Linked DNA regions of Homo sapiens. The protein of the gene in region 2 interacts with the protein of the main gene of each other region in a biochemical or structural test. Each region holds a gene or a part of one and is shown on either strand. Other genes may lie near its edges. The genes, in order: ERCC6L2 and NEK6.

Region 1 (3,819 bases), about 28 Mb from region 2:
CAGATTGCCATCCTCTCCTACTCCCACCGAGTTCACAATTCAGTATGTCTGCAGTGAGACCCCGGAATTTACAATCCTAACAAGTTCCCAGGTGACACTAATGCTGCTGACCCAAATATCCACTTTAGAGAACCACTACTCCATGGTAAGCACCCACTCACCTCTTTTCCTATCACTGAGTTGTCTGATTACCAAAGGTCAGGTTCCCAAACCTGTATACTCCAGTGAAATTGTTTATTGTACTTAAACTAGCTAATTATCACGTAAATGTACAAAAGGGATTCATTTTCAAGTTACCTGTTGAATTAGATGTGAAAATTCTGTGAAATATTGGGAGATAGTCATAAAAATCTTGGATTTTGTATTAAAATTTCCTCAAGTATCTTTAATTTTTCAGTCCCACTAAAACCAAAAATAGTAGGTGATGAACTGCATGGTGTTGAACATATCAAGGGCACAATGGACATGAGGAAATCTAGGAGTGATAGACATGTTCATCGTCTTGGCTGTGATGATCTTTTCTTGGATATGTGTATGTGGGATAAAATGTATTAATGTCTGCTATTTTAAAATGCAACAAAAGATGGATGGATATTACAAAACCATGTATAATGAAATATTAACAGAATCTAAGTGGTGAGAATATGGCTTTTCATTGTACCATTCTTTTAACTCTTCTATGTTTTAGAAAAATGTCAGAAGGTATCGGGAAAAATTAGTTCATAATCTTTGACAAAAAAAAATCTGCAACCTGCTTATAAGATAGTAGTTATTATGTGACTCCATTTTTTGCATATGTATGTTTGTGTGTGTGTTTACAGAAGTACATGTATATGTGGGCATATCATTATGTATGTTGCATATTTATCTGTGCCCTCTTCACCAGATCTGTCCTTCCAATTCACCTTAAAAATACTCAAGTCTTTCCTACCCCCAAACAATACAAAACAAACAAAAAAGAAACCCCCTCAAATTCTCGTCTCTCTCTTCACCTACTACTAGGTCACTTTTATTCCCTTTCGAAGCCATATTTCTTAAAGAGGTAAATATACGTTCTTTCTATGTCCACGTCTTCACCTACTCCATTATGGCTTGTGTCTGAAAGCTCCAGCAAAATGGCTCTTGCTCAGCATACCAATGATTTCTATGTCACTAGAACAAATGGACATTTTTCAATTCTCATCCCCTGTAGAGTGTAAAATATTAAATTCACCTACTTTTAAATTTGAAATGAGGGAAGGAAACTTTATTTGGTATGTAAAACAAGCTTTAAAAAGACTTCAGTTTCATATCATGGCCAAATTAGAATATAAAAAGGGGGAAACTAAAGGGATGAAATCAAGAAACAGGAAAAAAAAAAAAGAAGAAAAGAAGATAAAACTATAGCTCAAACAGTAAATGTCAATGGTCTATTTTCATTATCAATTAATTTTACTACATTCTGAAATTTTAGTTAACACAGTAATCATTCACATTTCTTCAACTGGCTTAGTCATATCTATAGAAGCTTTATCTATCTATAGAAGCTCTACCTTAAATGGGTCTTTCAAACCACCTATCTATGTAGAAATTATTCCCTGAGTTACAACAACAGTAACCAGAGAACTAGGTCCCCAAGCATCAGACAAATCCATCTGAGTATCAAAATTAGTGCAGAAACCATTTCCTAATCTTCAGACGGTACTCCCTCAAAGACTTGCACAGCACACTAACAGCATGTACCAGAACATCTCCAAGTCCTTCAATGATTACAGTGTATCAGGAATAGAAAATTCTGCAGTAAAATCAGCTCCTTTAAAAATAATCCTATGAACTGTAAAATAAAGTAAATTTCTTTGTAACATGGGCCTCAGAGATGAAAGACAGCCTTCAAATTTGAGACTAAAATGTGCGCAAGAATTTGAATTCGAATTGTATTTAAGCTGCAGGATGGTGGTTCCCAAACAGATCACTTTTTGTATGTAGTACCCTCATGTTTCTTCTTTTTTTGTATGTGAGACAGAGTCTCACTCTGTTGCCAGACTGGAGTGCAGTGGCACAATCTCGACTTACTGCAACCTCTGCCTCCCAGGTTCAAGAGATTCTCCTGCCTTGGCTTCCCAAGTAGCTGGGACTACAGGCGTGGGCCACCATGCCCAGCTAATTTTTGTATTTTTGTAGAGATGGGGTTTCACCATGTTGGCCAGGATGGTCTTGATCTCTTGACCTCGTGATCCGCCCGCCTTGGCCTCCCAAAGTGCTGGGATTACAGGTGTGAACCACCAAACCCAGCCTCATGTTTATTTTGAAGTTGAACATGCACTGGCTAATCAAAGAATTGTGGTAACAAACATTCTACCACAGGCAAAAACAGTAGAAGTATATGCGAAAACAGTTACAGCAGGGCTTTAATTAATTTATTAATTTTCCTCTAGTACTCATCTGTAATCTTGGTCACAGATGGCGTTACTGAAACACCACGGGTTCGGTCTAAGACCTGCTGCTCACCATACAGCCAGCCAATCACTGAGACAACACGTATTGCCAAGGAAAAATGCTTTAATCAGGCACTGTAGCCAAGGATCAGTCTCAAATCCATCTCCCTGATTAAAATTAGGAGTTTTTACAGCAGAGAAGAAATGTAACAATGTATGGGAAAACAGGAAGTTGGGAGGGCTAAGGAAGTAATCTGATGAATGAGAGGCCTGGTGTCTCACTGTCTGAATTCTACGATCTGGTGAGTTTCAGTTCTTTGATACTTTTTGAGAGGCCTGGGGGTCCTTTCCTGAGGAAGGAACTCAGATAAAACAAATACAAGTTTAAAGCTTTAGGACCAGAAGGGTCAATTTCTATGTTTATCCAAAAACAAGCAAACAAACAAACAAAACTGTCTGTGGGACTGTTGGGTCAGTTTCAGAGGTAATTTCTTGAAGGCTCCTTTCTTTATTCTTGCTGTCTATCCTCCACCTACAGGCCGGCATGCTAAATGATAGTTTGTGGAATAAACGAAGAAGGTAAATTCATTTATTCCACAAACAATCATTTAGCACGTCCAGTGTGCATGTCTAAACTATCTGCACTGCCTAGGCTTGAAGGAACATAGAGTATGGTTAATGGTAATATGATTATTAAAAGACTTTATTTTAGCCTAGTTTTTCACACCAGACCTTTACACACAGTAGCATTATTTGGCTATTTTTTTTTTCTTTTCTTTTTCCTTATTCCATCATTGGTGTCTGAAATTTGGCTATTTATAAATGTTAAATTTAGTTTTCCACTTAAACCTTTGAGTTCCAATAACTAATGGAGGTAATATGAAGAAGAAAATAAGTTAAACTCAATTATAAGAAAGGAAGCAGAATAACTTAATCACAAACTAGGCACACACTCCTGAAAATCTAAAGTGATCGTTTAGTATAAAATCTAGATTCAAAACTCTATTCTTCTTGGATCACAAACCTCTTTGAAAATCTAAGGAAAGCTAAAGACCCTGTAGCAGGCAGCTTCTGACAGGACTCCCAATAATACCCACCTCTTCATATTCCCAGTCCTGTTTAATCTCCTTCCCTTGAGTTCTGGCTGGACTTAGCAACTTGCTTCTAATGAGAAGAATGTGACAAAAGTGAAGGGATGTCTCTTGTGTTATTACATCACCAAAGACTATGACTTCTGTTTTACTAGTGCTGTCTCTTGCCCTCCTACTTGCTCTCCTTTTATGAAGCAAGCTACCTTGTGTGAGATGCCCCATGAAGAGGTCCATGTGTCAAGGAAGCAAAGGAGGCCTCCAGCCAACAGCTCACAAGAAACTGAGGCCAAGAACCCACAAGGAACTGAATCCTG
Region 2 (3,819 bases):
TTTTTTTGCTATTTTTAGTAGCGACGAGGTTTCACCATATTGGCCAGGCTGGTCTCAAACTCCTGACCTCAAGTGATCTGACTGCCTCGGCTTCCCAAAGTGCTGAGATCACAGGCGGGAGCCACCACGCCTGGCCAACGAAAAAACAAAATGTTTTTTGAACTCTTTTTTCTCCGTCTTTAACTCATCTTTTCAGTGAGTTCAGTGGCTACAGAGTAACGAAGTGAGGGCGGCTCTGGGAGGGGTGGAGCCACCCTGGGCTCCCTGGGGCTCTGTATAGAATCACAGAGCCCCACGCCTGCCCTGCCTGCCCACAGTGGGCCCCAAGAGGCAGTCCCACCTGTCCCCTCACCATGCCACCTGGCATGGACTGTGTCTGTCCCCTCGAAAGCTGCATAATCGCATATCCCCAGCACACAGCCCAGGGCCAGGCAGTTTGCTCAAGGAAGAAGAAGGAAGGGGTTTGCGCCTCAGCGCCAGGCTAAGCCCTGGGAGACCCAGCAGGGCCGTGACCTCGAGTACCTGATGGGGTCACCCCCAACTAGACTTGCTCTCCCAGCCCCCAAGAGGCAGCACGGGCCCTGCATGGGCCTGGGTGTGACCAGCCGCCCTTCCTGCCCTGTCACCCGTGGCTGCCTGTCACCGAGACTGTCCTGTCACTACAGCCGAGGAGCCAGGCCTGCCCGCCCGCTCTCCCAGCCCCGTGATTTGTCTTGCAGCTGCTGCCGTTGCTCGGAGCGAGACACTTGCTTGTAGCTTGTGAGCTGTGTATAGGCAAATCTTTCATTTTTCCTGCATTACGCCGGCGTGTACTGTCACTTAATTTTTATGTATGCAATCCTTCCTGACAAATATGATCTGCTGCCTGGTAATTCGTCTGACGCTCATTCTGTTCCGCGCTCTAATTACGGCTCCTATTTCTGACACCGAGGCAGCCACTCTGCCACCGCTGGGTACCGCACCTGTCAGCCCGACCATGGCACTGACTAATGCCCTTTCATGCCAGCCTCGTGTTAGCAAATACAGAGGCGGGGAGGGGGCCCAGGGAGGGGGGAAGTGGGAGGAGACCAGATTTGCATAAGCCCAGCTCTTGGGTCAGCAGCCTTAGGAGATGAGGTGGTTGCTGGGGCAACGTGGCTGCCACCACAGCATCCCCACATAGTAGGTGCACATGAGATGCGGCAGATGCATAATTCATCCCCACGCACAGGGCGTGAAGTGTCCCTGGCCCCTGTGCCCCTCCTGAGTCACGATGCAATGGTAATTAGTTCAATCTCTTGCCCAACCAAACGTGTGTGCAAGACTTAGCTGTTTGCAGAACCTCTTGGTGGAAGGGGTCTTTCCCCTGGGTCTTGGAGATACAGGTCCTGGGCTTTAGCTTGGCACTGTCACCATTCTAGAACCTGGTGGGTGCAGGCCCTTGGTTCTGGGAGCTTGTCCTGCTGGCAGGGACTTGCTCAGCTCCGTGCAGGCCTCAGCTCATTGGGCATCTCTCCTGGATGCCGGGCACAGAGCCCGGAGTGGGGACAGGCCCCAGGAGGGCTCCTTCCACCCATCATGTGGCCTGGTCGGCGCTCGGAGGGCTTGGGAAGAGCCCGGCTTATGAGGGCGGCCTTCTCCCAAGTTCCAATTCCTTCTCATTAATATAATAAGTGCACCAGTCCAAGTCAATAAAATCATACTGTCGGATGAGACGCATCTCTGCCCATTCCTAATGATGCGATCCTAACCCTCTCTGACGGAGCGCCACAGTCTTTTTTCTGCAGTGGGACAGAGAAAGGCTCGGTGCTGACTGACGGGGGACAGGACGCAGCGGTTCTAACTCTTCTCTTTGACAGCTTCCCTTGAATTTCCTGGTCTTTTCGAAGCCCTTCAACCACACAGGTAAACAGTCCCAAACTGACCGAAACACTTGGTTTTTCACAAGGGAAGTAAATGTTTGAGGGGACAAGGAAAGACGAGGCTTCCTTCCAGCAACGGAGAGTCAGTGGCCCGGGTCCCCAAAGGGGGACTCCAACGGTATCTGCCGAGGCCCCCGGCCCTCGTTTCCTGGAAGCAGCGTGGGTTCTGAAGGAGAGGCCTGCTGCCATGTGACCTCGGAAAAATCTCTCGAGCGCCTGGATTTCTGATTCTTCCTCTGCTAAAGGGAAGGATGGCTGGATGCTTGGGGCTGTCAAGGGCATGAGTGGAACGTCCCATACTCCCTGGGGGGTGGGTCCCTACACATCTTCCCTTTGGAGCTAAAGGAAGAGCTCCTGAGGCCTGGCCAGGTGGGGACAAGAGTTTCAAAACAACCCCCTCCCCGCCAGCCCCGCTGGCTCCATCAGCTGCTGGGAGTCGCTGGTCTCTAGGCTCGTACATTTCTCCTAAGTGTGTGTGACGCGCTGAGAGTCTCTCTGGAACCTGTATGAACAGTGACACTTTCCACAAGACACTGTGACTTCCAGAAAGTGCCTCCGCCCAGACAATGCTGCTGTCTCTCACACCCCGCTTGCCGCAGGCACTCGGGGGTCTGGGGATAGGAGACGTCCTGGCTTGAGCCATGGAGTGGGGTGGAAATGAGCTGGAATGGGGCGGTGTTCAAGGAGGCGGCGGGCAGCTCCTGGGGCCCAGCCCCCTCCTGGGGAAGCGGATGCTGGTGGGCACAGCACACAGGGGGTGGGCCTGGGGGCACCTTCCACTGCAAACACACCTCAAAGAGCCAGGAAATAGCCCTGAGAAAGCAGGGGCCCTCGCCCACTCCATGGGCCTCTGGGAAATGTTCCCACAGATGGGCGTGGTGAAACCCAGACAGCCTTGTAGTAACGCACAGGAGACCCTGCTCCTGTGTTCCACTGGTGGGGAAGCGGGGGCTTTCTTGGTTCCTTTGTTCTCACTAAATGAAAAATCCCCCATCGTACAGCATTCCAAGTTTCACATTTGGTTACATACCCAGTGTGTGGATACTGAAGCTTGCCATTGCTTCACCTGTCCCCAAAACACATCTGACCAAGTCTCTTCCGGAGTCCAGCCCTTCAGCACCCCCCGACCCATAGGGTGGTGTCCAGCCCACTGAGCTCAGAGTTCAAGGCCCTGCCCGCTTTTCATGCCACTCCTGCAAGGACCCTGGTCTGTGGCAAAGCCAAGCTCAGCCGCACACCGAGGCTCACCCACTGTTTCCTGGAACGCTGCTCCCTCCCCTTCCCTGTCCCAACAGCATCTGGTCTCCCTTTATGGTCCAGCTACAATGTCACCTCCTCCCTGGCAGGCACCTGGTCCCCACAGCCTCAAAACCGCCAGTTTAAAAGCCAGAAACTAGGAACAGTGCAAATGTCCACCCCCTAGGAGGGATGGACCAAGGGTGCTGCCCGTGAACGGGACACTCACAGCAGTGGGAAGATGACCGCCCTGTGCCACAGACACGCCCCCTGCTCCAAGCAACCGGCTCAGTCAGCTTCTCCCGCAAGGGCTGGGAGGTGATCAGGGGGTGTGGGAAGCCCCAGCTGGGCTCCTCTGGCCACAGCTGATTCCCTTCTGGGTCACTATTCTGAACAGATGAGAAAACCCTGGGGCTTAAAAAAGGCATCTTCCTGCACTAACTGACCAAACACACGTGGGGAGAATGTTTGCGTCTCCCTGCATGGTCACCAGGACCGCTGGGGGCTGCTGGGGCACAGACAGGTCCCCCTTACCTAGGGAGTGGGCTGCGGTGGTCTCAGAGCTGAAGAAGCGGCCCAGACCAAGGTCACCGAGCTTCACGACGCCCGTGGCTGTGATGAACACGTTGGCAGGCTTGATGTCTGCAGGGCGAGGAGAAGGAGATTGGTGTGGGGTAGGAGG

The links.
Region 1: the proteins of NEK6 (region 2) and ERCC6L2 form a complex in vitro, tested with the Homo sapiens proteins (one study listed by BioGRID).

Annotation. Positions count from the first base shown.
Region 1 is NC_000009.12:95,882,033-95,885,851, reverse strand, and holds part of ERCC6L2 (DNA excision repair protein ERCC-6-like 2), read right to left. Parts: intron 1-3,819. UniProt on the Homo sapiens protein: Promotes double-strand break (DSB) end-joining and facilitates programmed recombination by controlling how DNA ends are joined in a spatially oriented manner during repair.
Region 2 is NC_000009.12:124,327,298-124,331,116, reverse strand, and holds part of NEK6 (serine/threonine-protein kinase Nek6), read right to left. Parts: intron 3,780-3,819; coding exon 3,672-3,779; intron 1-3,671. UniProt on the Homo sapiens protein: Protein kinase which plays an important role in mitotic cell cycle progression. Required for chromosome segregation at metaphase-anaphase transition, robust mitotic spindle formation and cytokinesis.